Homo sapiens: one gene and its partner. The protein of the gene in region 1 binds, or shares a complex with, the protein of each later gene. Each region holds a gene or a part of one and is shown on either strand. Other genes may lie near its edges. A codon is read from its position in the direction of its gene.

What was found.
Region 2: the proteins of ALK (region 1) and ALKAL2 are in contact, whole or in part, in a cryo-EM structure (PDB 9G5I), measured with the Homo sapiens proteins. Residues at the interface, in NP_004295.2 of Homo sapiens: Leu684, Tyr739, His755, Ser758, Leu760, Phe856, His857, Glu859, Leu965, Tyr966, Thr967, Pro968, Leu970, Lys971, Val972, Met973, Glu974, Glu978, Asn980, Val992, Glu994, Cys995, His996, Met997, Phe1007, Asp1009; in NP_001002919.2 of Homo sapiens: Ser112 (codon at 13,248), Lys113 (codon at 13,251), His114 (codon at 13,254), His116 (codon at 13,260), Arg117 (codon at 13,263), Leu118 (codon at 13,266), His120 (codon at 13,272), Asn121 (codon at 13,275), Thr122 (codon at 13,278), Arg123 (codon at 13,281), Asp124 (codon at 13,284), Arg133, Arg136, Leu137, Arg140, Leu141.

The regions. Positions count from the first base shown.
Region 1 is NC_000002.12:29,189,108-29,203,662, reverse strand, and holds the end of ALK (ALK tyrosine kinase receptor isoform 1 precursor), read left to right. Parts: intron 1-5,986; coding exon 5,987-6,121; intron 6,122-6,802; coding exon 6,803-6,893; intron 6,894-9,740; coding exon 9,741-10,439; 3' UTR 10,440-10,889; downstream 10,890-14,555. UniProt on the Homo sapiens protein: Neuronal receptor tyrosine kinase that is essentially and transiently expressed in specific regions of the central and peripheral nervous systems and plays an important role in the genesis and differentiation of the nervous system.
Region 2 is NC_000002.12:282,630-299,424, reverse strand, and holds the start of ALKAL2 (ALK and LTK ligand 2 precursor), read left to right. Parts: upstream 1-11,333; 5' UTR 11,334-11,412; exon of another isoform or gene 11,413-11,460; intron 11,461-11,532; 5' UTR 11,533-11,589; coding exon 11,590-11,842; intron 11,843-12,800; exon of another isoform or gene 12,801-13,081; coding exon 13,082-13,135; exon of another isoform or gene 13,136-13,221; coding exon 13,222-13,302; exon of another isoform or gene 13,303-13,496; intron 13,497-16,249; coding exon 16,250-16,314; intron 16,315-16,795. UniProt on the Homo sapiens protein: Cytokine that acts as a physiological ligand for receptor tyrosine kinases LTK and ALK, leading to their activation. Cytokine-binding is sufficient to activate LTK. In contrast, ALKAL2-driven activation of ALK is coupled with heparin-binding to ALK.

The DNA of each region.
Region 1 (14,555 bases):
ATACAAAAATTAGCTGGGCGTGGTGGCGGGTGCCTGTAATCCCAGCTACTTGGGAGGATGAGGCCAGAGAATTGCTTGAACCTGGGAGGCGGAGGTTGCAGTGAGTTGAGATTACTGTAGCCTGGGCGACAGAGCAAGACTCTGTCTCACAAAAAAAAAAAAAAAAAAAAAAAAAAAGGCACATCCTCAGGCCAATGGTGATAAAGATCCTGCAAACTTCCACAAAGAAAATTTAAAAATTAATAGTAAAAAATAATAGAGATAAAAGATAAGGAATCCAAATGGCATCAAATTGCTTAACAGCACCACAGGAAACATAAGAAGACAATGCAAGAATGAAAAACCTCCACATTTTGAAAGCCTGGAGCTGAGATCATGTCATAAGATGGTGCGGCCACAAATAGTCAGAGCTGCCTTTCTGACCAGCATTAGATAATGAGAGCAAGAGCCTTTGTTGTTTTTACACCAGTGAGATTTGGTTTTAACCTAACCCAGTGGATCTCTAAGTGTGGTCCATCAGCACCACCTGGGAACTGCGAATCCTCGGCCCCCACCTCAGGCCTAATACAACAGAAACTCTAGGGGTGGGACTCTGCAATCTGTGTTTTATCAGATGATTCTGATATGCAGGGAAGTTAGAGCACCAGCAACCCAGGGGATCCAGAGACAGAGAATAACTTAAGCAATTAAGTAATTGTCCTGAACACACACACATCCTGTGACCTAACGCTCCTATTTTTAAGTAAATACATTAGAGAGAAGATGACACAAATAGACTTGGGCGCTGGATGTTCACTTGCAACATTGTTTACAATAGAGAAAAAGCAAAACAAAAACAAAAATAAAAACAAAACCCAACCCAACTACCCCTCAACTAGGAGATGGAAAAATTAACTGTGGTTTACTTACATCATGGAAAACTATTCCGCAGTATAAAAGAAGACAACCTACATATATCAACATAGATAAATCTCAAAAACAGTGTTCAGTGGGGAAAAAGCAAATTACAAAAAGGAGTAGGATATCATTTATGTATAACTTTACAATATAAAAAATGTCTATAACACAGTATCGTTTGCGCTTTCACGCATTGTTTAAAAATGTGAAACATACAATTGTAGGATACAGTCTAACTTCAGGAGAGCAGAGAGAGGGAGGTGGGGTCTTTCTGTCTCTAAGTCTTCATAAAGAAAGGGAGAGCTGACAAGAATAAGACAAAAGATTAACATCTAGATACATAGATAACTCTGTTCCTTTTTAAAGTTTTGACTGTTTCACAATTGGAATGCTTAAACAAATTATATAGCTGCAAGGATTAGGAAGTGCTCTAAGACAATCAGGCAGAAAGAGGAGGAGCTGGGGTTTTTTTGGCAAAGGTGGGCGGGGGGAAGCTCCTTACCGGAGGTAACTTCAATACCTGAAAGAAAGGGCAGGCCTTGGAAAGATCTGAGAGAAAGGCTTTCCAGACTGCAGGAAAAGCCAGTGTGAACAGCCAGAGGCAGGAAGGAGCCTAGCTTGCTTGCTGAGGAATGAAATCAAGTCCTGATGGTCGGAGCTAAGGGAGCCCAGGGCCAATAGGGGTGGAAGGGATGGGTCAGAACACAGACGGCCTTGGAACTCAGATGGGGGATGTGGATTTTATTCTAAACACCATGGGATGCCGGTTGAAGGGTTGTAAGCAGGAGTGTGATATGATCTTTGCTTTATAAAAAAAATCTCTCTGCCACTGAATTTACACTAGAGGTGGGTAAGTGAAGAAAGAAACCAGTTAAGAAAATCCTGCACATTGCTAGCTGAGAGAAACAGGAGAGCGATGTGGCTTGGTGGTGGCAGTGGAGGTAGCGCAAAGTAGTCAGATTCAAGATTTTTTTTTTTTTTTTTAGACTGTCATTCTGTCGCCCCGGCTGGAGTACAGTGGCGCCATCTCAGCTCACTGCAACCTCCGCCTCCTAGGTTGAAACAATCCTCTCACTTCAGCCTCCCAAGTAGCTGGGATTACAGACGCGTGCTACCACACCCAGCTAATTTTTGTATTTTTAGTAGAGACGGGATTTCACCACGTTGGCCAGGCTGGTCTCGAACTCCTGACCTCAAGTGATCCGCCCACCTCAGACCCCAAAATGCTGAGATTACAGGCATGAGCCACAGCGCCCGGCCTCAAGATCTATCTTGAATGTAGAGTTAACAGGACTGCTGACTGTTGGATGGGAAGTGGAGGGGTGTGGGATAACGGAGTCAAGGATGACTCCTGGGTTTTGGGCTTGAACAAATGCATAACCAGAGGTGCTGCTGAGTTGGGAAAGAATGAAAGAGGAGATGGTGTGGGTTCAGAAGGAGTTCCGTTTGGGCATGTTAAATTTGAGTTGCCTATTAAAATAGGCCAGTGAAGCTAATGAGTGGGCATCTGATAGATGAAACTAAAGATCAGAGAACTGTATGAGATCTTGGTGTATGAGATCTTGGAATCCACTGGATGGACATTTAAAGATATTAATTTTTGGCTCCCATTTTTCCTAAGAGCATAACCTCTATCACACCTGGAGACCATCTTCCACAATGTTTTTTTTTTTCTTTAATCATAACCTCCTTTCAGGTTATGATTAAGGAGAAAAATGTAGCTTTTAAAGGCTGATACAGAACAGCTTGATATTTTAAAATCTTTTATCAGATTATCTTCATCGATTCAAATGTTTAACAGTTTAATCAGCAATAATGTTTGCTATTATTTCTATCAATCATTCCAGGCAGAGCAAGTTTAATACCAAAAGAAAGTGAAGTTTAAAAATATATATATACACATATATATACGTATCTATATACACACACATATATATACGTATATATGTATATACACACATATATATGTATACATGTATATACATATATATACGTATATATATACATATATACGTATATATATACGTATATATATACATATATACGTATGTATATTTGATTTTAAATGCTCTGGTGCAAAGCTTTGGGCTTTTGTCGCTCCTGTTTAGGGCAGGCTTATAGGTGATGAAAGAACCATCTGGCATACAAAATATAGATTTGCCTCATCTGTAGGGTTTCTAGATAAAATACAAAATGGTCAGTGAAATTGAATTTCAGATGCACAGCAAATAGTTTTTTAGTATAAATATTGGAGCATACATATACTAAAAAAACTATGTGTTGCTTATCTGGAACTCAAATTTAACTAGGTATCTGGTATTGTTTGCAAATATGAAAATCCTACTTATTCAAAATTGTCAAAGTTCTATGACCAATACTACTTCTTGCTCCCTTGAACTCTAAACTAAGAAAATAAATATTCATGTGCAGTTCTATTAGTGCTCTCAAAGGATGCTATAACCTATATCTATCTAGAAAAACAGAAAACATATAGCTATAATTCTTTAGGCCTTACTGCCAGTTTCTTGTTCATTTGATTTTGCCTAGTTAGTTTTGCCTTGAAGGGAAGTAAGATCACCAAACAGAAAGGAATAATATATGTGCCAGGCAATTTGTAAGTAGCAAAATCAAGAGATCTCCAAACAGAAAGGAATAATATATGTGCCAGGCAATTTGTAAGTAGCAAAATCAAGAGATCTAATAATGTATTCCAGTCTGTCTCGGATTAGTTGTATAATAACCTGTGCTTCAACCTTCTCACCTGAAAAATAGGGAAAATATCTTTGCCCAATCCTTCTCACAAGAGTCTTTGAAATTTCACACAGATGATGACAATAAAAGCACCCCATGTTTCTTAGAAGATGAAGGAACTATTGTTCTCTACAATTTTTGTGGTAATATTTGCTAACCTCAGAAAACTACAATCACACTAAAAGATAGTCTTTGTCAAAAAGCTGATCATTAGGTAGTGGTTTAAAGTTTTAATCAAAATATCAAAGGTGATTCTTTTAGAACACGAAGAATTCATCTCATAAAGCTTTTAAAAAAACAAATGAGAAATCAAATATTTTTTAAAGAGAAATAGAGAAAAATGCCTTTTCAGATTTAAGACAAATACACAGAAAGTAAAATAGAATGGTATCAATGCAAGAAGCAGACAAATAGATGAAGTGAAAATATAGCCAGAAACAGACCTGTTTTTAATCGTGAGTCAATGGGTAAGGAGGAAATTATCTTATGCATAGTGTTGGAAGAGTAGTTATTTGAAAAGCAAATCAATTTAGGTCCTTACCTCACACTAGACACCAAATTAAATTCCAACTAGATTTAAGAAGAGAGCAAAAACAAACACAACTAGAAGAAGATAGCAAATATTTATCTAATCTTTGGTGAAGGGAAGATTGTATAACTATAAAATAAAGGAAATCATGACATTAAAAAAATAGGTTTGACTATCTAAAAATAAAAATCTTTCTTTGGTATGCTAAAAAGTAGCATTAGAAAGCAACTAAGGCCAGGTGCGGTGTTTCACATCTGTAATCCCAGCACTTTGGGAGGCCGAGGTGGGTGGATCACCTGAGATCAGGAGTTCAAGACCAGCCTGGCCAACATGACGAAACCCTGTCTCTACTAAAAATACAAAAATTAGCCAGGTGTTGTGGTGGGCGCCTGTAATCCCAGCTACTTGGGAGGCTGAGGCAGGCGAATCACTTGAACCTGGAAGGTGGAGGTTGCAGTGAGCCAAGATGGCACCACTGCACTCCAGCCTGAGTAACAGAGTGAGACTACATAAAAAAAAAAAAAGAAAACAACTAATAAAAGTATTTGAATTTTTTATAAAAGGTTAACATCTCTGACATATAAAGAGTGCCTACAAATCAAAAAGAAAATTGATTGATAGATACCAATTTGTCCCAGCAGATAAAAATGGGCAATTCATAGGAAAAAAAAGTGAAATGAATTAATAAACACTTGGGAAAACATCCAACCATGTGAATTATCAAGTCAATAAACATAATTTAAAATATTCTACCATTTTTTCCCTTAAAATCAGCAAAAGTTGTCATTATTATTAAGAATACTCAATGCTGGTGAGTGTGTCTACCACGCTTTTACATGGTGCTGGTAGATGAACAGAGTAACACATTTGGAAACCAAATAATATGCACCAAGAATTTGTCAATATTCATAGTCTTTTGATCTAGTTATTTTACTAGAATTAGCCTACATTTTAATTCAGTAATTACCCTGAATTACTAGATTATCCTATCTGGATTCAAGATCTATCTTGAAAGTTATAGGACTGCTGACTGTTGGATGGGAAGTGGAGGGGTGTGGGAGAATGGAATCAAGGATGACTCCTAGGTTTTGGGCTTGAGCAAATGTATAACCAGAGGTGCTGATGAGTTGGAAAAGAATAAAGGAGATGATGTGTGTACAGAAAGAGTTCCATTTGGGCATGTTAAATTTGAGTTGCCTATTAAAATAGGCCAGTGAAGTTGATGAGTGGGCATCTGATAGATGAAACTGAAGCTCAGAGAACTGTAAGAGACTATGAAATCAGCTGGCTGGACATCCTAATCTAGTAATTCAGAGACTTTATCTTAAGGAAATCTTCCTTTTAAAAAATGCACAAAGATGTTCATTATAGTATTTTAAATATTTTGAAAACTGAAAACAATGTGGAAATGATAAGGCAAACCAACTACTCAATGGAATGTTTTACAGCCATTAGCCATTCCAAATGTTATTTATGAAATGGACTGGCATGGAAAATGTTTATGATATAATGAAATGTGCAGAAAAGTCAAGGTTCAAAATTGCATATTGAATATAACTGCAAATAAGTGAAAAAAAATCTCAGCACAGAAACGACTTAAAAATCAACAGGGGTTGTCTTTTAAGGGAGCATCATGTGTAGTATTTTCTTATTTTTTAAATTTTTCTACATTTTAAGAGTTCTATGTTATGGAAAAGGGTATAATGGGGGAAAAAAAGGTTGAAATTGTATGTCTGTGTGCCTGTGTGTGTGTGTGAATGTGGGTGGGTGTGTCTATATCCATCTCCATGTCCTCTGTCCCATGCCCAGGTCCTTTGGAGTGCTGCTATGGGAAATCTTTTCTCTTGGATATATGCCATACCCCAGCAAAAGCAACCAGGAAGTTCTGGAGTTTGTCACCAGTGGAGGCCGGATGGACCCACCCAAGAACTGCCCTGGGCCTGTGTATGACTCTTTTAGGAACACTTCTGCTAGTTACTAAGCAGTTTTTCTTTTCAAAAAATATCCAGAGCCACATATGCTTCTTTAAGATGAAGGGGCAGATGGCTGCCCTCCCTTTAATATGCCCCAAGATGCGAATGTGACTGCGACTTCAGTGAGATGGATGCGTCTCCCAGGCCCTCAAAAGCAAGGATGCCATCCCAGAAAAAGTATCCATTGTCTGGCTACAGGCTGTGGACTCACCAGGCCTACATTCCCCAAGCTCCTGCTGGGAATGTGTGTCCCAGGCCCAGTCCCTGCTGCCCTACACCGTATGTCTGTGTCTACTTTAAAGATTTCCATTCCCTGCAATGTCTCCTGCCCTGCCTGGCACCCCTCACTTCCTTCCCACAAGCAACGTGGATGGGAAATATAATTGGAATATTCTGTCCCCAAAGTGGCTTTAACTCAGGAATGGAGTGACAGCAGCCGTGGTTAACATAAACATCAGGATGTCTGTGTTAGATACCTTTACACCTGCGCACTCTTCCTTGACCAATCAGCAGGGGGCAGCATAGGCCAAGTACACGGGGCCTAGACGAGTTCGCACCCTCAACGTATTCGTTGCAACCCTGGGGCTGGAAGAAAATATATTTTTCATCATTGTGCTTCTCCTTATTTTAATTAATGTGCTTCTTCTTTTAGATACCGGATAATGACTCAGTGCTGGCAACATCAGCCTGAAGACAGGCCCAACTTTGCCATCATTTTGGAGAGGATTGAATACTGCACCCAGGTAAAACATTTTCTCCCTTTGGTCAACATTTACTCTATATGAAACAGTCTTAAAGATGGCAAATACCGAAATATGAAATAGGTCAAGCCAGTCAGAGTACAAGATTTATGATCAAAATAGTGAAAATTAATTTTCTCTAAAATGAAATGACTGGTGTCTCCATTTGCCCATTTTGTAAAATAAATATTAGTAACTTCACCAGCACACAGCACAGTGCCAGACACACAGTAAAAACTGGGGAATCAATCCAGTCCACGAGAATTTATCAAGTCCCTACTGGGGACCTAATGTTTTAGTAGCCAAAATTGAAGCTTCACAGACGTATGGAACACATCTGCTCTCAAATAGTTTAGAGCCTGGCTGGAGAAATAACAACATGTGAAGTAATTAATTGCATATAAAATTGATAGATTATATGTCCAACTATATATGTCAGGAGGATTAAGGGAATGAAATTTCAAAGTAATCTGGAGAAATTTTAACATCATCAATAATACTTGCTATCATTCATACTGCACAAATCACTTTTTGCGTATTTCGTTTTATCCTTAGTGGGGAATGTAAAATATCCCTACCTTATAGATGAGGAGTTAAGGCCTGAAGAGTCTGTCCAAGTCAAACATTCTTCTAGCAATCCTGTGGGTTCCTCTACAGATCCCTCTCCCATTCCTTCAATAACGACTCGAAATTTTTGCTTCTCTCCCTCATTTTCAGCCGACAGCTATGCTTCCTCCCTCACCAAGAGGGTGGAGATCATCATAAGAGAATGCCCTCATTTCCTCCCTGTCTCTGATACAAACTTCTCTGCCTCTGCCGCCATTTCTCACCACCTGCCTTCCCGTCTCTCCTCCCCTTCAAGGCCAGCCTTGCTGCCAGTATCACCAATCGCCTGCTCAGGGCTTTGTTCTGTCCGATGCTCTCCTCTTCCCTGTATTCACTTTCTTTCCCTCTCTCTTGGTTCTCGTTCTGCCAGGATATCTAATTCTGAGAATATTTTAGAAGAGTCAATAAACCACTATTTATTTAATTTAATTTTGGGAGCAGTCTCGCTCTACTGCCCGGGCTGGAGCACAGTGGCGCCATCTTGGCTCACTGCAGCCTCCACCTCCCGGGTTCAAGCGATTCTCCTCCCTCAGCCTCCTGAGTGACCAGGATTACAGGCATGTGCCACCATATCCAGCTAATTTTTTTTGTAATTTTAGTAGAGATGGTGTTTCACCATTTTGGCAGGCTGATCTCGAACTCCTGACCTCAAGTGATCCACCCGCCTCGGCCTCCCAAAGTGCTGCCACACCTGGCCTACCTACTATTTCTTTAAATCCCCTCCTCTTCATTGTGACTAAAGACAGACACATTTTTCAAACTGTAGTCATTTTCCAGCCTCACTACTCCATCCTCTTATTCCTTTCAGCTCACGTGAGTGAACTGGCATTTTTATCTATAGACTTCCTATATCACGTTATTGAAGGTTCTTTCAGAGAACTCTGTTTAATGACATTAGGTTATTTTGTTGTAATCTGAATGGAATACACCCACTTAAACATATATACCTTCTTAGGAGTATTTTTCTCAATAGTCTATAATATCCCTCTTAAAAGGCAGTTTTACACAAGCATATTTAAAATGATTGATTCACTATAGAAATTACTAAAACACAGAGGGAACTAAAGAATGTTTTAATGAGTCAGAGGTAGTTATTTTTTAAACTCGAACACTCGTGTTTTTCTGTTACTCAGGTAATGAGGGTATTTTCTCAATTTGCATAAAATATTAATTAATTTCTCCAAATTTAATTTTTCTTCCACAAATTTTCCCTAAACTTCTGGCAGCTGCTTCTGTTCTTCTATGTTACAGTCTATTACTGTGAAAATGATCTAGCACACAGTTGTTTTTGTAAATGGTTTTCCTCACAGCACTTCAGCATTTCCTGGGTTGTGCAAAGGGTCCCTCACATCCAGACTAGTTAAAGAATGCCTGTAATCCCAGCACTCTGGGAGGCCGAGGCAGGTGCCTCACCTGAGGTCAGGAGTTCGACACCAGCCTGGCCAACATGTTGAATGAAACCTTGTCTCTACTAAAAACACAAAAATTAGCGGGGGTGGGGGGGTGGGGGGGTGGGGTGCATGCCTGTAATCCCAGCTACTCAGGAGGCTGAGGCACGAGAATGGCTTGAACCCACTAGGCAGAGGTTGCAGTGAGCCAAGATTGAGCCATGGCACCCCAGCCTGGGCGACTGAGCAAGACTGTCTCTAAAAAACAAACACAAAAACATGCACTGTGGTACCTGCACATGTGATGATGTGGCACAGGAAAACTTACAATCAAGTGTAAAGTACCCAAATGGAAATGGAAAGCAGCTGGGAAGAGATCAAAAAATAAACCCTGTAGGCCAACATGGCATGTGTCTCCTCTCCTCCTCCCCCCAGCCCCCCACCATCACTCTTGAAGTCAAACACATAGGCTTTTATTTTTATTTTTTCCAGTTGGAACGATTTTAGTGGAACTAGACTGGAATAATACAAATAATAATCTTAATTTTTTTTTTAAATCCACTAATCTTTAAAAACTGGCCAAAGGTCTCCTCCTCTGCAAAGCTTTTCCTGCTCCACTCTGTCCCAGGCACCCATACACACTTCCATTATAGCGCTTATCCTCTAAGGTCTTTGAGGATAAGGATGACTTCCCATTCATTTTGTATGCCCCAGTGCCTGTAAGTTACTATATTCTCAATAAATCCTGGTTTCCTCATCTGTAGAATATGTTTAGATAACATCATCTCTAAGGTATCTTCTAGATCCAACATTTTTTGTCTCTGATTCAAAGTTTTAATAATTTCCCCTACGGCAGGACCCGGATGTAATCAACACCGCTTTGCCGATAGAATATGGTCCACTTGTGGAAGAGGAAGAGAAAGTGCCTGTGAGGCCCAAGGACCCTGAGGGGGTTCCTCCTCTCCTGGTCTCTCAACAGGCAAAACGGGAGGAGGAGCGCAGCCCAGCTGCCCCACCACCTCTGCCTACCACCTCCTCTGGCAAGGCTGCAAAGAAACCCACAGCTGCAGAGATCTCTGTTCGAGTCCCTAGAGGGCCGGCCGTGGAAGGGGGACACGTGAATATGGCATTCTCTCAGTCCAACCCTCCTTCGGAGTTGCACAAGGTCCACGGATCCAGAAACAAGCCCACCAGCTTGTGGAACCCAACGTACGGCTCCTGGTTTACAGAGAAACCCACCAAAAAGAATAATCCTATAGCAAAGAAGGAGCCACACGACAGGGGTAACCTGGGGCTGGAGGGAAGCTGTACTGTCCCACCTAACGTTGCAACTGGGAGACTTCCGGGGGCCTCACTGCTCCTAGAGCCCTCTTCGCTGACTGCCAATATGAAGGAGGTACCTCTGTTCAGGCTACGTCACTTCCCTTGTGGGAATGTCAATTACGGCTACCAGCAACAGGGCTTGCCCTTAGAAGCCGCTACTGCCCCTGGAGCTGGTCATTACGAGGATACCATTCTGAAAAGCAAGAATAGCATGAACCAGCCTGGGCCCTGAGCTCGGTCGCACACTCACTTCTCTTCCTTGGGATCCCTAAGACCGTGGAGGAGAGAGAGGCAATGGCTCCTTCACAAACCAGAGACCAAATGTCACGTTTTGTTTTGTGCCAACCTATTTTGAAGTACCACCAAAAAAGCTGTATTTTGAAAATGCTTTAGAAAGGTTTTGAGCATGGGTTCATCCTATTCTTTCGAAAGAAGAAAATATCATAAAAATGAGTGATAAATACAAGGCCCAGATGTGGTTGCATAAGGTTTTTATGCATGTTTGTTGTATACTTCCTTATGCTTCTTTCAAATTGTGTGTGCTCTGCTTCAATGTAGTCAGAATTAGCTGCTTCTATGTTTCATAGTTGGGGTCATAGATGTTTCCTTGCCTTGTTGATGTGGACATGAGCCATTTGAGGGGAGAGGGAACGGAAATAAAGGAGTTATTTGTAATGACTAAGCATGGGGAAAGACATTCTTTACTTGAAAAAGAAAAAATCATAGACAACTGAAATGTCACTTTAGGTGACGGTTAGATGCTTTTAATTGTGCTGATTCATCACCAATTGTAAAAAATGTCGTGAGTAGTTCCAGTAGTATAGCAGAAGTGTGTATATACTCATCTCAATGAAATGCATACATTCCAAGTGCTTTGAGTAGGATAAAGCACCAATACAGATCCAGAGATTCAAACATCCTATTAAATATACCTCATGCCTTAAGAAAATCCTCCTACTAGAAGTGAAAAACTGAGTGTGAGGTTTCCTACTGGATTTAAAACTCAAGATTTAAACTACTTATTTAAAAAATTTCCACTAATTAAATTTTGATCATTTAAAAGCAAAAATTTTAAGCAGCAGTGATACATGGAAGCATGGAAACATATCCATTTGTGGGCATAAGCGTCAATACATTTTAGGCCAAAACCTTCTATTCGTTTCAGTCATGGAATGAACTACCAAACTCAAGTTTGTACCTGTAGAGATGGACAGGGCCCCGGGAGGAACAGGCCGCTGGTGGTCCTAAGGAGAGGCACTGATCCAGTCTCTTTCCTTTCACCGTTAACCTGCGTTTTCTCTCCCTTCCTCATGTGATCCAAGTACACTGGGAACATAAATGTGCTGAAATACACATCGCATAATTTGTATAGCTGTCAAAGGCAGATTAAAACAAAGAATTTTTTCCCTAGGAGGCGATGAGGAAAGGAATTGTGGAACCCTTGGAGAGTTGAGGTTGACATTGACATGTTAGAGTGGGAGTTCTGAACTTGGTTTTCACAGATGAATTTTACTTCCATGAAAACGCATTGGGAATCTGTTTAATTTTACACACATACTTATGTGTGTAATGCTTAGAATGCTTTATCAGTAAGTCCTCATTTCATCCTCTTTCTGCTTCTCCTCTAGCCTCACGCCCACTTTCTTTCCTGTTGGTAGCTACACCAAAGCATTCAAGAGGAAAGCAATTCTCTTATTACTTGCTAGTTACTAAACATTACCAAACAAAAGGACTATGTGTGTGTATATTATAAAAAGTATATATATACATACCTTTTTCTGACCTTCTCAGTTTCACCTGCGTCAAAAGCATCACTTTCAGCGTGGGAAAGCCATTATGTTAAAAGCCAACACCAGACAACTCTTCCTTTCTCTGAAGGCAGTTGCCTTTCCCTGGAGTTAGAGTGTACAACTGTAAAAGCACTGATGGCTAGAGGCTACCTTCCTTATCTGCTTAACTGCCAAAAATATTTTCATCAGAGATGCATGAAGATGAAACATCAATGAACTCATCTCTAAATAAATGTATCGGTAAAATTCTGGTTCATGCCAGGCACAAAAGTAGCCTAATCATATACACATTATTTAACTCACAGACCATCTGAAGGGGCTCGAGAATATCACTTTGAGAAACACTCTTCCTAAAGGATACTGACAGAGGAGTTGTCAATAACTGAGAAAAACACCTCCATTTTAGATTTGTAACATCAGTAACCAATTAAGCTGGGAGTAAGCTATCTGGTTAAATAGCCATCTCTTTATTGTTATTCATGGGGAAAATATTACTTCTTTCCACTTTTAAGAACGACAAATCCATTACATTTTCAGGTTGTGCCTTTCTACCACTGAGATTGATTTGTTGATCTCTCTAATCGTCCTTATTGGTATCAACTTTCATGTAAATAATAGTCAAGTCTTAAAAGCTTGTATACATGGATAAGTAAATAAACAACTCCACACTGAGATGCGATGACCTGAAGATGTTTCATTTAACTTGGTGTAACCCATGGGTATCAGCATGGTATTAATCTGGACTATGGTCCACTCGAATATTGCTCCAGGCACATGGCTACAATTCATACAGACGCTATGGATTTTAATAAAGTTATTAACCATGATAGAAAGTTCCACCCAGAATATGAACGGGCACAATTAAAGTTTGCAGAAGCTATGCTAATTAAACCGTAATCTAGCATAATTATTTATATCCTATGTCTATAAGGCCCATCGAAAGTTCACAACTGTTCCACTGGGAAGCTGGCAATTTGTGAGCAATGACCAGTTTGTTAATATGTTGTACCTCAGGATTATAGCAATTCAGACTAGCAGGAATAAACTTTTTAAAAAGAGTATGCTCTACTCAGTAGTTAAAAGGCTGGATTCTCTTTCCACCAGTTAGAGTCTGAGTTCTGACTCCCCTTGAGTTATCTGACCCATTGGTACCTCAATGTCTGCAGACATAAAAGGAGGACAATCACCTCCCTTCCTCACAGCTCCTCAGGGAGATCATGCACTATGTGAAAGCACAGGCGCCCCCTCTTACACCTTGGCAGCCCCCAGGTGAGGTGGGGCTGGGTGTGGGGGCAGGTATGTCTATGCCTCCCTGCCCTCGTGCTCAGCAGTGGTTCTTGTCCCCACTCACATCCAGCCCTCTTGGCTCTTCCCATTTGTGCCATGTTTTCTTCATCTGTCATTTGGTTTTGTTGTTTTGACATATAATAATCATGTGTATTTATGGGGTATCATGTGATACTTCAATACATGCATATATTATATAAATGAAATCAGGGCATTTAGCATATCCATCACCTCCTATAGTTATCATTTCTTTGTGGTAAGAACATTCAAAATCCTCTATTCTAGCTATTTTGAAATATACACTATTGTTAACCATAGTCACCCGACTGTGCAACTGAACACCAGCACTTATTCCTCCTCCTAACTCTAATGACAGTAGCAGGAACCCTGCCAGAACCCAACTCCTTTTCAGCTCAAAAGAAGAACATAAAGTTTCTACCACAATTTCAGTAATTCTTTAAAAAAAAAATTTGGCATCTCCACATAGTACTTAGTAAACCCTATAGCTGTAAGGTATTATGTAACTACAGTAAAGTTTATTCTGTAAAACATGGGCCTTTATATCCAAATTCCCATAGCACACCACTAAGAAATTCTAATGATCAAGCCATTTTAATAGGTTTTCAGTAGTAATAGCAGGATTAAAATCCGTATGAGTTTTACAGACCTAAAAGGAGATGCATTTGAATTCAGGTTACTCTAAATAACAGGCTACGCATGACAAGATTCATAAAATTGTATGAAGTGTGTTGTCAATCTGTCTTTAATGGTTTTTAAAATGAGTCCCTAAAGAACACACAATTTGACTTTGCTAATTTCATTGCAGCAGATGGCTCCTGTGTTGTTGCATGAAAAAGCAAAACCAGCATTCCCGTAATCCTAAACATGCTGCTGTAAAATACAAGATCATTACTGAGAGCAAATAGTAAGGCTTCTATTAAGATTCTACTTTCATTTGGTGTCCTGAATGGGGGTGTTTAATTTTTGATGCACTACTCAGGTGCAAAACATTTTTTAGCCGTAGCCTAACAACTGTAAAACATTTGAAAAACTTGGTAAGAACAAACTACTATACGGGGGGTGCGGGGGACGGGAAGTTACATGAACTATGACCACAAAACTACAGGAATCACCTTCCTCTCTTCAGCATGCAGTAAGTGTAAAACAGGTGTGTTACCCTTGACATGGAAAGATGGCACTACAAGTCTAACCTCAGAAAAAGCACAAATACCAAAATTAGTCTTTAGTGCCTTCACATGTCCATTTCTTAT
Region 2 (16,795 bases), about 29 Mb from region 1:
GGGAATCCTTTTCCCTATTTAATAAATCCTTTTCCCATTGCTTGTTTTTGTCAGGTTTGTCAAAGATCAGATGGTTGTAGATGTGTGGTGTTATTTCTGAGGCCTCTGTTCTGTTCCATTGGTCTATATATCTGTTTTGGTACCAGTATCAAAACTATTGGTACCAGTACCATACTGTTTTGGTTACTGTAGCCTTGTAGTATAGTTTGAAGTCAGGTAACATGATGCCTCCAGCTTTGTTCTTTTTGCTTAGGATTGTCTTGCCCATGCGGGCTCCTTTTTGGTTCCATATGAAATTTAAATTAGTTTTTTCCTATTCTTTGAAGAAAGTCAATGGTAGCTTGGTGAGGATAGCACTGAATCTATAAATTACTTTGGGCAGTATGGCTATTTTCATGATATTGATTCTTTCTAACATAACATGAGCATGAAATATTCTTCCATTTGTTTGTGTCCTCTTTTTTTTGTTGTTGAGCAATGGTTTGTAGTTCTCCTTGAAGAGGTCCTTCACATCCCTTGTAAGTTGGATTCCTAGGTATTTTATTCTCTTTGTGCCAGTTGTGAATGGGAGTTCACTCATGATTCGGCTCTCTGTTTGTCTGTTATTGGTGTATAGGAATGCTTGTGATTTTTGCACATTGATTTTGTATCCTGAGACTGCTGAAGTTGCTATCAGCTTAAGGAGATTTTGGGCTGAGACTATGGGGTTTTCTAAATATACAATCATGTCAATGACAGAAGTTTTAAACCTGCGAGCTGGGGGAGGGACTGCGCCGCTGAAAGCCAGGCCTGTTGATGGTGTCAGCACAGCAGAAATACTGCCAATGCTCCCTCAAAACTGTAAAGAAAGGTGAATTTCCATTTGAACATATATAGAGAGAAATACATGAACTACATCTGATGTATTGTATTGATTTCTGTCCATTCAGCAGCACAGCCTGGGAGTCACTACTGATGGGGGCCCCAGATTCTGTGAAAGCAGAGATGACAACTAAATGGGACCCAAATTCCTGAGTGGTGGCATATGCATTGTGACACTCTGAATGAAGTTGTAATCGCTACTTCACCATGACAGGTTCTAAGACAACAAAAACACAAAATGTTACCACATAAACACAGTCCCCGAGACATAGGATTCTTAAAGGAAAACCAGGAATGTATTTGGTCAAAGTCAACTAAATTATGAACAGTATGAAAAAAAAACATAGCCAGCTGCTTAGTTTATAGAGAAAGTTTATATTTACTAATTTATTCAATACTTTAAAAAGACCTACACACTATAAAGAAAGGGAGAGCAGCCCCACTTTGCTCATGAGGAGATTAAAACCCCAGAGCCTCAGGGACTGGCTGTGGCCACAATGAGTGTCGGAGTAGGAATCAAAATCAGCTGCCCTGGCTGGTCTTCTCTGACTCAAAGCCTTTCCTTAACTCTTACACATGACTGGTGGGAGTGTAAACTGGTACAGCCACTAAAAAGCTAAAACTGAGAACAGAGCCTCCATATGATCCAACAATCCTCCTACTGAATATTTATCAAAGGGGAGGGAAATCACAATATGGAAGGGATGTTTGCACCCCGCGATTATTGCAGCACTATTCACAATAGCCACGATGCGGATTCAATCCAAGTTGACAGCAACAGCAGGTGAATACAGAGGAAATGTGGCTAAATACACACTGGAATACTACTCAGCCTTAAAAAGAAGAAAATCCTGTCATGTGCAACAACATGGATGAACCTGAAGGACATCGTGCTAAGTGAAATAAGACAGACACAAAAAGAAAAACACCGCATGGTCTCACTTATATGTGAAGCTAAAGAAGAGCTCACAGACGTGCTGAATACAACAGTGGTTATGGGAGTGGGGTGCTGGCAGAGGGAGCTTGGTTAACATGAACAAACCTACAATTACAAAGGAAGAAGTTCTGGTCTTCTCATAGGGTGAGTAATTGACTATATATTTTCAAGCAGCAGAAGAGAGGATTTTAAATGCTGTCAACACAAAGAAACGATAACTGAGATGATGGATATGCTTATTAGAGTGATTTGATTATTATACATGGTACACATGCACCAATATATCCCACTGTACCCCATAAATACAATTATTACATGTCAATTTAAAAAATCCATGGAAACAAAAAGTAGAATGGCTTTTGCCAGAGTTTTGGGGAAGAGAGAAATGATGAGCTAATGTTTAACGGGTCCAGAGATTCTGGTCAGGATGATGAAAAGTTCTGGAATTGAACAGTGGTGATGATGGTTGTACAAAATTGTGAATTTACCTAATGCCACAGGGCTGTACTCTTAAAATGGTTAAAATTGTGAGTTTTATGTTACATATGTTTTATCAGAATTAAAAACAAAAGAGTACCTGCATTCATTTTGAGACAAAACAGAAGTCTCCTCCTTCACTTTGAAGGTGTCAGCTACCAGCACATAAAGACAAAGAGAAAACCTCAGGGTCATGTTTAAACACATCTGATTTATACTGAGGACAAATTAAAGAAAGTAATTTATGTAATGAAGAGTAAACTTATGGAACTCATTGCCAAAAGAGGAGGTACAGACATAGAAATATTCAAAGACATCTACGAGAAATTGTTCAAACATTTATTGACAGCAGCCTAAGAGAACGTGGAGCACGATAAGGTTTGGAGTCACCCTGAGGTTCACATCACAGCACACAAAGAGCTTTTTGCCCCACTGCCACTGTGCCCTAGTGCATTTCTGAGGACTGGAATAGGGAGGTGGATGGACCTGCAGGTCCTCCCCATGGCACAAACGCTGCACCTTGCACACACCTGGGTCCCTGCCATGTCTAGCCCTAGCCTGTGCACAGTGAGGAGAGTACACCTGGTTATCAGGACAGAGTCACCTCTAAGACGCCCAGTGCCTAACTGCACAGTGAGGAGAGTACCTCTGGTTGTAAACACAAGGTCACCCCGAGATGCCCAGTGCTTTTACATGGTGAGGGCAGCACACCTGGTTGTCAGCACAAGGTCACCTCTGAAATGCACAGTGCTTGTACATGTGAGGGTATCACACCTGGTTGTCAGCACTGCATCACCTCTGAGATGCCCTCCCGTTCACGTGTGTAGCAATAAAAAAAGTCTGGCTTAACAACTGTCATTCTCAGCTCCCAGTCAAAGCAGAATAGGGTGTTGTGCTCATATTTAAAGCTTCATTTTGTATTGTATCTGTTTTTAGAAATTGTCTATTTCTTTGTCCACGTAGGCTAAAGTTACATCTTCAATAAGCCAAGTAATAGGAACTTACTTTGCTCACCGCAGTATGTGTGCCTGCTCCTAGAACTATGCTCAGGATGTGGCCGGCACATGGTCAGTTTTTGCTGAATGGAGGAAAGAATTAAATTTTGGAGCCTACACATGGTCCCAAGATCACGGCTATGTTTTCAATGGGACTTTTAAATGCTCTTACAGAAATGTTCATACTGGGAATGCCAATGTCAGGATGAAACAGGTGATTTCTAAAAAAGATGATTTTCTTAGGAAGCCAAGACTTTCTCTACTCTCCATCCTCATCTCCATGCCCCAGTTCTGAGCCTCCTCCTTTTTTCGCCTGCATCACTATAAATGTGGCTGCATCCATGCTGAGGTTTCAGTTCAAATACCTTGATACCTTGTCCTCAGAGATGATTCTACAACCACCTTATCAGACGTAGGTCCCCTTCGCCCTCACCATCTCATCTCTGTCTCAGCATTTGTCTCTCTTCCTTCTTCCCTCTTTCTTCCATGCTCTTTTTATAACTTCCTACTATTTCATATAGTTATCTGTTTGCTGGTGTTTACCTTCTGCAGCAAGTGAACCATGCAGGAGGGACTGTCACACCTGCAACACCTGGTGCAGTGCTGGACACGGGGGACACTTCGCATCTCTCTACTTAGTGACAGCATCTGACGGAAGGAGGGAGGGTCAGAAAGCCCCCTGCTCGCCTGTCTGCCCATGGGGGAGGGTGGGCAGAAGGAGGCAGGACTGGTCTGTCTGCCTACGGCCCCAAACCCTTTTGGTCCATCATCCATAGCTACCTCCATAAAACACAGATCTGATGATGTTGGTCCCTGCTCAAGGCTTGTCAATCATTTACCACTGCCTGCAGGATGAAGTTCAGAGTACTGAGAGTGGCATTGAGAACAGCCTCTTGTCCTCTTCTCTCTCCTACACTCTGTTGCAGAAGGGACCCTCACACATTCCAAGCGCACTGTGACCCGGCACCTTGGCTTCTTTACATGTGCATTCCCTGCCCCTTTCATCCATAAACCAGCCTCAAGGGAGTGGCCCCACACCCTACACTCCGTCCAGACTCCAGGAGCACACGACACACGGGACACACTACACCAAACAATGCAGGTTTCTTGTGGACAGAATTTCTCCCCTCTGTCCCTGAGCACCCGAGGACTCAAGCAATGGCTATGGGATGTGTGAGCAAATCAAAAGTTCTCAGCACAAATTCTCCCTTCCTTCCTGGAGGTGCAGACTGTTTCTGTTTGACGTCCATTTCCAAGCATGTCCAACCCATGGCCCATGGGTCACATGCAGCCCAGGACAGCTTTGAATGTGCCCAACAGGAATTTGCAAACTTTCTTAAAACATGATATTTCTTTGGTGATTTTTTTTATAGCTTATCAGCTATTGTTAGTGTTAGTGTATTTTACATGTGGCTCAAGATAATTTTTCTTCTTTCTTCTTCCAGTGTGGCCCAGGGAAGCCAAACGGTTGGGCACCCCTGCCTCCCGTTTCTCCCGGGGCCAGTAACTGGTCTGCCTTACACTGGTGCTGCCTGTCTGCTGTGGTCTCAGCGTCTGTGTCTCTCCAAAGTGCTTGTGCCGAAACCTGATCCCAAGAGTGATGGTGTCAGGAGGTGGGGCCTTTGGGAGGTGATGGGGTCCTGAGGATGGAGCCTCATGAATGTGATTATTGTCCTTAGAAAAGGGACCCCAGAGAGTCCCCTTGCACCCTCCACCACGTGAGGACTCAGTGAGAAAGTGCCATCTATGAGGAAGGCGGGCCTCGTGTGAGGACTCAGTGAGAAAGCGCCATCTATGAGGAAGGCGGGCCTTGTGTGAGGACTCAGTGAGAAAGCGCCATCTATGAGGAAGGCGGGCCCCACGTGAGGACTCAGTGAGAAAGCGCCATCTGTGAGGAAGGTGGGCCTCGTGTGAGGACTCAGTGAGAAAGCGCCATCTATGAGGAAGGCGGGCCTCACGTGAGGACTCAGTGAGAAAGCGCCATCTATGAGGAAGGCGGGCCCCACGTGAGGACTCAGTGAGAAAGTGCCATCTGTGAGGAAGGTGGGCCTCGTGTGAGGACTCAGTGAGAAAGCGCCATCTATGAGGAAGGCGGGCCTTGTGTGAGGACTCAGTGAGAAAGCGCCATCTATGAGGAAGGCGGGCCCCACGTGAGGACTCAGTGAGAAAGCGCCATCTGTGAGGAAGGTGGGCCTCGTGTGAGGACTCAGTGAGAAAGCGCCATCTATGAGGAAGGCGGGCCTCACGTGAGGACTCAGTGAGAAAGCGCCATCTATGAGGAAGGCGGGCCTCGTGTGAGGACTCAGTGAGAAAGCGCCATCTGTGAGGAAGGTGGGCCTCGTGTGAGGACTCAGTGAGAAAGCGCCATCTATGAGGAAGGCGGGCCTCGTGTGAGGACTCAGTGAGAAAGCGCCATCTATGAGGAAGGGGGGCCTTGTGTGAGGACTCAGTGAGAAAGCGCCATCTATGAGGAAGGCGGGCCCCACGTGAGGACTCAGTGAGAAAGCGCCATCTGTGAGGAAGGTGGGCCCCTGTGAGGACTCAAGAGAGAAAGCGCCATCTACGAGGAAGGGGAGCTTCATCAAACACCCAGCCTGCCTTGATATTGGACTGCCAGCCTCCAGAACTGTGAGGAATATGTTCCTGTTGTTTATAAACTACCTGTGTATGATATATTGTTCTAGGAGCACACATGGACTAAGACAGTGTCTCAAGCACTCTTTGCCTAATGGACTGCATTATAATAGTGGCAAAAATATCAGAGACAGCAGTCTTGAAATGTCCCCACGGTTTTAAGGAAGGGTCAGGTGAGCAAAATATAGACTGTTCTTATGAATTCATAGCCCTAGTATATCCTAGCCAACCACACTTATATACCATCCTAACAGCACAGGCACTGGGCCTGGGGCAGCAGCAGGGGCCCTCACCCACAGGTCTGAATCCTACTCCACTGGACTGAGCCCTCACCCACTGTTCTGAGTGCTGGTCACATGGAAACTTACTAATTCAGGATATTTCAGTCCACTTCTAACTATAGATTTTCTATGCAGCTGTGAACAAGTCACCAAATTCTGATGCCCCAGACATTCTCTAGGATTGGATAATGCTCTCTTTCATGCCATATTGTAAGGGATAAAATACAGGAAAAAAGAGGCCATTATGACAGCAGACACTCTGAAAGGCAGTAATAGCAATAATTGGTCAGTTAAAAGAAATTTAAACTATACTAAAAAGTTAACATACTTTATCTTATTTAATGTTTATAAAACCTCTGAGGTTGTACGTACTCCTGTCATTTCCGACATGAAAAAACTGGGCTCAAAGAAGTTGTCTTGCCCAGGTTCACACAGATGTGAGCAGGAATCAGAACCTGAGCCCATTTCTGTGGCTTTGAAGCCCACGTCCTTTGCAGTCCGCTATGCTGCATTCTTGAAAGAAAGTGGAGTTCAGGTGAGGTGACTCTCCATCTGTTCCTCCCACCCTCTTCCTACAGCCCAGTCTTCCCAGCAGATCCAAGAGGTTCTGGGGCCTCCTCCTTGGAAGTTTGCATATGCAGTTCCCTCTATCCAGGAGGCATCCCCATCACTGTGCTTAGCTTATCCTAGAAACAAACAACAACCCACTTTGGTAGGTGGTGCCTTTATGACACTTTGGATGTCTCTGTGATGAACCTAGATCATTGTGTGTGTCACTTCTGATCAGGATATCTGATTTCCTGCAGAAAACAGATGGAATGCAGATATATTGGTGTTGTTACTCAGCATCTATGACTATATTTTGTTGAAATATTGTCATGGATAATATTTTTCTGATATGTTGATGATTGGTGTGTTCTTTCAAATTTATTCTTACTACTTCCATCAAAAGATGTCAGATTGGTGCCTCCAAATGGCAAGTAAGCATCACAGTGGTTTCAGAATTTATAACTAAAATCCAGTTTGAAGGAACAACGTAAAGTCCATACTTCCTTTAAGCCTTTCCCCATGAAAAGTCCTCTTTATCTTGGCCTGGAACAATAAATTTTTTAAAAAAGTAAATCAGCCATGCTATCTTATCCCAACCCTTTAAATACAACTTTCACCTAATTTCTCTCCTGAACATGCATAGCCGTGTGCATCTGCAGATGCAAAAGCAGTGTTGAAGAATGGGAAGGGGTGGATGACCATGTTTTTGGAATCATCTTCTTCCTCCCTAGAAGGGGAGAAGTGTTACATAGAATGCTGTACTTCATTGATCTAGAATAAGCTGCAGATATCATGCATACATTATCACTTGTAAGAGTCTATATTTATTACATTTATACTAGGAAAATTAATCCTGTTAGAAAGCTTGTCTTCCTAAATGCTTTAAACACTGTCTAGTACGTGCCTAGCACACTAATAGCATTTTGATAGCTTAAAAAAGCAGAATTGGTAAATATTAAACAGTAAGCAATATTTGTTTATAGTACATGATGTTATCCTTTATGAAAGGTGATTTTTTTCTACAATACAAACTTCGTTAGATTGTTAAATGATTGCCATAATGATTGAAAAATATAACAATTCATTTTAAAGCATGTGGTTAACACAGGTATTTTAGAAGTCTTTGAGGGCAGCTAATATTCATCTAAAATTAAATACGTACCCTCTGGATGAAGAAAAAAAATGATTGCAGTCAAAACATCAGAACTTTAACCTGTTTATGAATTGAAAAAATCAACTCACCCATCTCAGGACCTATATATAGTACTGTTAGGGTAGATTAAATACAGGTTTTTTTCCTCTGCTCGGTTTTCTTCCTATGATCCAACACAGTTTTCTCAAAAAGATAACCAAACTAAATCAAATCTAGAAAAAAATTTTTCCAGTAATTCTAGAATATAGTTTGTTGCTAATTGTATCTCTTTTCTTTTTGGCTTCCTGCTTGAAAAGCACGGGTTTGAAGGGGTCCACTTACATATTTTTTTTCAAACGTGGGTCGAAAACACAGCAGCTGGAGGATGCGAAACGCACACAGAGGGAGGGCAACTTTCCGTATTTGCGTGTTCCACAGGCCCCACTGTGAGACGTGAATGTGCCTGGATTTCGGTATCTGCTGGAACCAGTCCCACGCTATACCAAGGGATGACTGCACACCTATTTCTGATGACTGGAGAACTCCAAGGGGTTCGTCTTGACAATACCATTAACTTAAAAATTCAATAAAGATTAACAAATCGGTGGTACACTCTAAGTTTGTTAGTCTGTAAAAATTGTTTCTATAATATAAAATGAGCAGCACCTAGATAATTTTGGCAGAGAACTTTGTAAAAATAAATGAACACATAAATTGTCTGACTCTTAATTGTAAGATCTCATTAATCCAAAGACCAACCAAGCATCAGCTCTGTTGCTGTTGATTATCCACCAAACCTCTACTAACCTGGGCGGAAGTCTTGGCCCACACTTGGATGGTAGAAAGGGCTCATTCAAGGAATCCATTTGTCCCATTAAAAACTGCAAAAGAAAAGACATAATATTAATTACTAGCAAGGCTTCCTCGGTAGGTAGAATTTGTGTGTGTTGGGGGAAATAGATCCTACTAGCATTTTATAGAAGAAATTTAGCTTTTGATTTTATAAAATACTATTCTAATAGGTCTATGTAAATTTAAAATAATACGTGAAATGTGTTTTCTTCTTTTTACCATACAAAGATTTTTTTGAAAAACTGTCTTACACCAAGCTATTTTACAACAGTAAAATCTTCTCATGGTTCTATTTTTCTGGGAACTGCGGTGTCCACCAGCTGCGAGGTGGGCCCGGCAAGCAGGACCGGGAGCAGGGCCGGGGAGGGCCGGTTCCATCGCCAGGCGTCGCTCTTGCCCGTGGAACTCAAGTGTCTTCTTGGACATGGGAAGGGGAAAGAGAGAAACGAAAAATGCCTCCTTTTATGTGCCTAAGGTCTGTTTGACATAAAATTTTACTTTTTCCTGAGTGTATTTTAGCAGAAATGTTCACATTTCAGTCATGTAGCTTGCAAAAAGAAAAAGAAAAGCCTCGCTGTGAAATCAAACCATCTGTTTTTCAAGGGAGCGGAGAGAACGCAGATCCCAAGGGTGTGGGGCGGGGTCCGGAACCGGCACATTTCATATCTTCTCTCTCCACGCTGCCTCCCCGCCCAGCTCTGCCGGACACTTTCTCCTCCTGAGGAGACAGACCCCGTGCAGGAAGAGAGAAAGGACGCGGGGACGGGCGCAGACGGGGCCTCTCCGGGAGCTGGGGGATCGGGGCGCGGAGCCTTCCGCCCGCACCGCCCGCGCTCACGTGCGCCTGGGCCAGCACCTTCCCGCCGCGGTCCTGCGACTGCCCCGATCATGGTGCAGGCCTTTAATTCTCGCCCACTCCGCCTCTCTGATTGCACTCAGAACACCTTTCCCAAACAGATCGCGGACTTGGAAGACGTCCAGCTCTTGCCCAGAAAGCACCAATCGAATGGGAAAGTGCGCAACTGATTGATAATACATTTTACAAGAATAAAATAAAAGAGGCAAATTGCTGAACTTTCACAGATGTGCCGGGCTTCGGCCAAAGAGCCAAACTTTCTTAAAGACGAGTCCGGGAGGCAAGTGCCCTCCTGCGGGCGTTCCCTGCCGGGGCGCGAGGGACCCGCGGGCCGAGGGTCCAGCGCAGAGGAGCGCGCAGATGGCGCGGTCCTTGCCGGGGAGGGACCTTCGCTCGTCCTCTCGCAGGGGGTCTGGGGAGGGGGTGCAGGTCCTGCCCCTCCTCGGGTGGTCAGCTGTGCGCACCTCGGGGGCCGTGGAGAGTCCTCACCCGCCCATCTCCTGCCTCCTGGCCGCCCCGCCTCGGGGACCAGGGCTTGGGGACCCGAACCTGGGGACTGGGCTCGGGCGGGGCAGACCCCTCGAGGTCCGGAGAGCGGATCCCTCCAAAACGGATGGACTCTAATTGACTTATTAAATGTCGAAGCAATCAGGCAGCTCCCTTTTTAATAGCCCAAGATCTACATTTAGACAAAAACAGAACCGAGTTCCTGGTAAAGGCGTTTCTTCTCATCCTGTCACAAGTGACAGGAACGGAGGGAAACAGACTGGGGGAGGGGCGGGGGGAGGAGAACAGGGGGAAGAGGAGGAGACGGGGAGTGGGGGAAGGTGGGGCAGGAGAGGAGGAGACGGGAGATGGGGAAGGTGGGGAGGGAAGGGGCGCGGGAGACGGGGCGCGGGCGAGGGGGAGACGCGGTGGAGATGCGGGTGGGGGGACCGGGCGGGGGCGGGGGCGGAGTTGAGGGGGAGCGGGAGACGGGGGGAGGCGAGAGCGAGGTGAGGCGGGGGGACTGACGAAGATCCGCATGGGGGTACTAACACTTCAGCGGCTTCTAATTAAAGCCCCGCTCGGAGCCCTTGGGGACCCGCCTGACGTCGGCGGGCGCGGGGATAAGAAGCTCCCCGAGGTCTGAGGCGGGACTCGGAGCCGGCGCACCCCAGGTCGGCCGTGGGTCCAGCGCTCGGAGCGGCCGAGTCCCCGCGTCCCGTGCGCTCCGCCCGCCGGGCATGGAGTAGTGGCGCAGCTCGGGGCGCGGGGACAGACGTGCGCACAGACGGCGACGACTCCGGCGGCTCCAGGTAACCGGCCCGGCCACGACGCGCAGGTGGCTCCCGGGTGGCGCCGGGCAGGTGCGGGAGGGCGCCATGGCCGGGAGGTGGAGGGGCTTCCAGCACGTGGCGCGGCCGGGGCCAGCGCGAGGGTCCGCACCCGGCCTCCTCCGTGGGCTTCGGGGACTCGGCGCTCGCCGGCGACCACCGCGCAAAGGCGACGCTGGAAACTTGAGCGCGGCCGCCGGGCCCGGCGCGCGGCGCCGCCTTCTTGGAGAGCGGTAGGCGCGGGAGCGCGGCCCCTCCGAGGTCCGCCCGCGGCCGGGGAGCTGCCTGGCACCCGCGGCTTCCAAAGGGGAAAGAAAGTTGCGCCCGCGCCAGGCGCAGCGCGCTCGGCGGACGCGGCCTTTCGGGCGAAAGTTAGGAGGGGCCGGGCTGGCGGGCGGGCGGGTTCCGGGGGCTCCTTTCCGCACCAGCGGCGGTCGCTCCCCGTGGGCGGGACCTCGGGCGTGATCGTCGAGGAGACCGCGGCTCCCTCACCTGCCGGCTTGTTCCTCGGGGTCCGCGGAGGTGAGGGGCCGGGTCCAGCGCCAGCGGCTCCTCCCGCCTCCCCTCCCCTCCCCCGCCCCGCGCTCCGTCCCCCTCCCCCGCTGACTTTCTCTCCGGCCCCCCGCGCCCCTTCTCTCGCAGCGAGCCCAGCTCTCGGCGCGTGTCGGAGTCTCCCAGCCCCGCGGCCCCGAGCGCACGATGCGCGGACCCGGGCACCCCCTCCTCCTGGGGCTGCTGCTGGTGCTGGGGGCGGCGGGGCGCGGCCGGGGGGGCGCGGAGCCCCGGGAGCCGGCGGACGGACAGGCGCTGCTGCGGCTGGTGGTGGAACTCGTCCAGGAGCTGCGGAAGCACCACTCGGCGGAGCACAAGGGCCTGCAGCTCCTCGGGCGGGACTGCGCCCTGGGCCGCGCGGAGGCGGCGGGGCTGGGGCCTTCGCCGGAGCAGCGAGTGGGTGAGTGGGGCCGAGCGCGCCCGAGGGCCGGGGCTGCTGGGAAATAGAATTGTCTTTGAGAAACACGTTTCAAAAAGAGACATCAATTTTGACCACTGAACAGCAGGATTCCTTTTTTTTTTTTTTTTTTTTTTAAGAAAAAGAAAATAGCAGCAATAGGTCCGCGCATGAGGCCTGGCGGAGAAGCGCCTGGTCTCCTTCTGGCGCGCGTGAGCTGCGGCGCGGGTCGGTGGTTTCCACACTAAACTGTCAACCGTCACTTTGGAAATGGAAGCATTTCCAGCAAAGCTTTCCCAACTGAAAAGGAAGCATCCAGGCTCCTTCATGGCCCTGCCCAGAGTGGTGGCCCACGGGGAATTTCCCAGGAAAGCATGAAAGCGTCTAATGCTTTTGTGACACAATCAGGTCAAACATGATAAGGTCAGTTTTATCCCGGCTGCGTCAAGTTAGGAGTGAATGAAGACTCACTAGGGGGTCAGCTGTGGATGCGAATGCTCCTCTTCAGAGGGCGTGACTTCACACACAGTCGGGGCTCAGCCAGGAGCCCTGAACGGGGGAGTGAAGATGGAGAGGGCTGTAAATACGCAAAAACAAAGCTGAACTCAAGAAGAACGCCCTTGCAGGGTTCTCCCCACCCACTGTGTGCGGAGAACCCTGGTGGAAGAAGTTTGCTTGGCAGAGTCTTTCCCTGGGATTCTTACCCTACAAACCAGGTTCATGCATATTCCCACTAATTTACACCTCACTGAAACGTGGTCTTTTAATCCTTACTCTAAATATGTATCTAGATAAAGTAATGTTCTGTAACCCATTTTTTTGTTTGAAGGGTCAGGTTTTCTCTAAAAACTTTGAAATGTTGTGGGATTTGATTCCCAAGGTCCTTAAAACTAAAGTGCCTAAAAGTGACTTATTCACTGGAAGTTAAATGTTTAAAAGAAAAAAAAAACAGTTTTCTTACCTCTGTAACTTCGTGGTCTCTGTCTGCATCCCACGGGGTAGACAGCCGACATAATCCTGGAGCTTCAGGAGCAGTTACTGTTATTTCAAGGAAAATAAATGTCCCTGATATTGAGTCTTCTTCACTGTCGTGTGTTGCAATCCAGGGCCCCAGTCTTTTTTATTTTGTGCAAAGCAACTTGGCTAATATGGAGCTCCAATTTTCTTCAACATTCACTTAAGATCACATTTTTAAAAAATGCGTCCTTCAGGTAATATAATACTTTCTTTTCCCTGAAACAGAAATTGTTCCTCGAGATCTGAGGATGAAGGACAAGTTTCTAAAACACCTTACAGGTAAGTTTTCTCCTCGTTCCTCACGTCTCCCAGAGCTCCTTTTCACCTGTGAGTCTTCATGATCTGTTTCTTCTTCCGTGTTCCAGGCCCTCTTTATTTTAGTCCAAAGTGCAGCAAACACTTCCATAGACTTTATCACAACACCAGAGACTGCACCATTCCTGCATGTAAGTAACAGCATTGGATTTTTATAAAATGCAAGAGCAGTGCAGGCAGCGGTTCCCCTCTTTCCATTTCCTCATATAGGCCCCTGCCTTCTTAGCTCAAATTTGCCTATTCCTTCCTCACTATGGAGTTAGGGGCCAAGATCGCCAGACCATTGCAGAAGATAACTAACTTCTGCATCAGCTAACGCCAAACTGGAAATTATTTACAGTCATTGGAATAATAGGCTCTTGGGATGGGCTGAACTCCGATTCTCCTCCTGTTAATTCTCCTCCAATGCCCATGTTTGTGTGTACTCTACTATGGCAGTCAGATGTTAAGAATGAGTTGCTAAACTGACTCCAAGAATAAGATTGACCTGGATCATCTCCACTGCTCTTACCAGAGACTTTTTCTTCCCATTGGTAATTATAACCTCATCACCCAGGAATTTCATTGTGATTTCAAAACTGTTTCTCTGGCTGGCTCCATCACTCCTTCAGAAATGCAGAGCTGCCCTTATCAACATAGCTCTCAGCAGTAGCTTTCTCTCCTGTTTCTTTTCAGTCTTCCTAACCTGCTTTTGGCTATTTATTCATAACAAAACATTTTATTTCTCCAAAAGTAGCTCCTTGTTCTCTTCACTGAAGCCTTATTAGCTACAGTGATAGGGCCCTAACCCATTTTTTTTAATTCGGACTCCAACTTTGATTTTATTTAAGGCTCACAGGAGAAAAGTCATGCAGAAACACTAGGCATCCTGCTAACTGCTGTCATCAGGGCTCTCCAGCTGGACCAGGCAGCGTTCCGGACTTGCTGTCCTGCCTTCCCTCTCCAAAAACAAACAAACGAAAAGCCAATGTACACGAAGTATAAGTGCTTTTCTTTGTTTAGGCAGCAAAATTACTTCAAATAATAATAACCATCATTTATAGAGCTGCTTCTGTGTGCCGGGTGCATGCCAATGAACCTTGGCCCACTGAAGTAGCGTCACCAGCGCGTTTTGGACAAGGCTAAGGCACATGCACTTTTAGCATTCACATCACCGCACAAAGATGCATGGAACGCAGCCTCGGCCCCTCTGACCATACCTTTAGCAACATCATCCTCACGCCAAGGCCAGCAGCACACACTTCCTGAAGAGTTTTTATATTCTTGGTGCTGGGCCCCACCCTTCCATGTGCACCTGGCACACTAGTACTCTCCTGTTTTCTTCTTTTGGAATGTAATCACCTGTTTGGGAATCATTAATGTGGCTCTTGGGGCCAGAAAATCTTGTCGTTTGTATTGTTTTGATGTACATATATTTTATATTACCTATTTCCTTACAGTAATAGGATCATAGATTCCAAATTTGGAAGTGACCTCTGAGTCATTCAGTCTCATCTTTTCATTTATGGATGAGGAATTGCTTTTGTGCTGTCAGATATCAGCAAAGCTAAAGCACAGATCTCATGGTTGACTCTGCAGGCCTTTTTCCAAGGCATCATGCTGTGCCTGCATTCGATACCTCCTTTTGCTCACAGCAGCTCGGCTTTGTGATACTAAGCTCCTGATCACAGCTCACCCTGGGCCATGGAGAGGGAGAAGGCTGAGAGATCTGTGCCTTGAGATGGGTGGCCACTTTGTTGCTTTCTGCCTCTTCTTAGCCCATAAAGAACTGCAGAGCTGAAGTTGGACCACTTTTTTACTGCGTCAGGCTGTATAAAAGAAAATCCTTGGGATCCTGGAATATCAGACCTGAAGGAACTTTAGTGCCTTCTCAAAGTGTGGTCCCATGGGGAGCTTGTTGGGAATGCAGAACTAAGTCCCATCTAGACTTGTTGAACAAAATCTGCATTTTAATAAGATCCCCAGATGATTGGTCTGCACATGAAGGTTTGCAAGACATTGCTGAAAACACCTGGGTTGAGCAGGATGTGGTCAGCTGGGACCCTGGACATGGCCCAAGTGGAAGTCTTCATTGATTAGATCAGCCATTGAAATCACACATTCCACTGCCTCCATGATGTGGAATCTGTTTAGGAAAACTACATTCTAAAAAGCATGGTGCTGCTTATGAAAGAGAAAGCCAGGCGGTCAGATGACCCAGTGCCACTGTTTGGCCCTTTGAAAAACATTTTCTGTTTGAAAAATCCCTAACAATATATGCCATATTTAGGAGGCGTATTTTTGGAAGTAGAGCTGGCTCCTTAACTAACATATCGTACACATTTGTCATTGTCAATCTACCCATTCAATTCAGATTTTCAGTTGGGTATAAATTCTTCCACTTTTAAGTAGGATTTTGTTATTGAGAAATAAACTGTAATAATTTACAAACTATTGCAGCTTTCCATAGATCTTCACCCAGAGGACATATTTTCCCTTATGGCCATGCCCATTACACCTTCTTAATTTCTATAGGCAGCACGGTCAGAATAGTGGAATGGGAGACTGTGTACGATACCAAGGAGTATCAGCCAGCGCTTAGAAACGGGCACATTGCTTCCGCTCGCCATCCACTCCAGGCCTCTGCTCTGCTGCCTGACTTTTGACCCACTTTCTTTAGAATTTACAGGCAGAAGGCTTTGTCCCATGGTCAACTCAAGTTGGGATTCAGCCTGCACATGACCTGAAAGTAGCACAAGGGTACGGAAGGATTGTCACGTAGGAAGCGAAATGAAGTTATTTCTGAGAGAAGCAATGGGCAGCCAGCTCAGCCATGCAGCCTTCGTGTCTGTCCCTCTTCCCTCCGCTGCCCCACTTACATCATCCGACTTCTGCCATTGAAGCTCAAGCCCTTGAAGCACCATAAATTATTAAGTCAACAACTTAGAATGCATGCCTGCAGATTAGACTCCGTATTGCTTCCAGGGAATTCAGATATTTGAAGAAATAAATGGCTTTAGTAGCTGATATACTTGCAAAAAAATGCGATTTATTTGTTTTTTAAGTAACTGACAAGAGTCTGATATATTTTCACCGTAGACTATAAAAGATGCGCCAGGCTTCTTACCCGGCTGGCTGTCAGTCCAGTGTGCATGGAGGATAAGGTAAGCTTGGACAGACACACACTGGAGCACATACCAAAGATGGGAATCCCGCTTGGGACATGAAAAATTCATGGGAGTTTAGGAACACTCATTCTTTGGCTGAAGTAGCCATATTCTAAGTAGAGATGGCACAACACTCATCTCACAGTGCTGAAAGCCACCCTACTGGCTTGTCTACAGGGCCCCGGCAGCTGTTGTTAACTGCTCACTGCATGGCACACGGGCACTAAGTGGGTCCTGCTCTGAAACACAGCAAGTCAGCCAGTGTCAGCATGTGACTGAGTGCGTAAGTCAGGAACAGACTAAAATTGTCCGTTTACTTCGAGGCATTCATTCATTCACTAACACAAGTGAGTAGATGACCAACATTGTCCCTGCAAATTCAGATTATCACATCTGGTACATGTTTGAGTTGTAGTCATAAGCTCATAAAGAACAGCTATCCTCTTTAAATGTTTCTATCAATGGTTTTTTTTTTTCA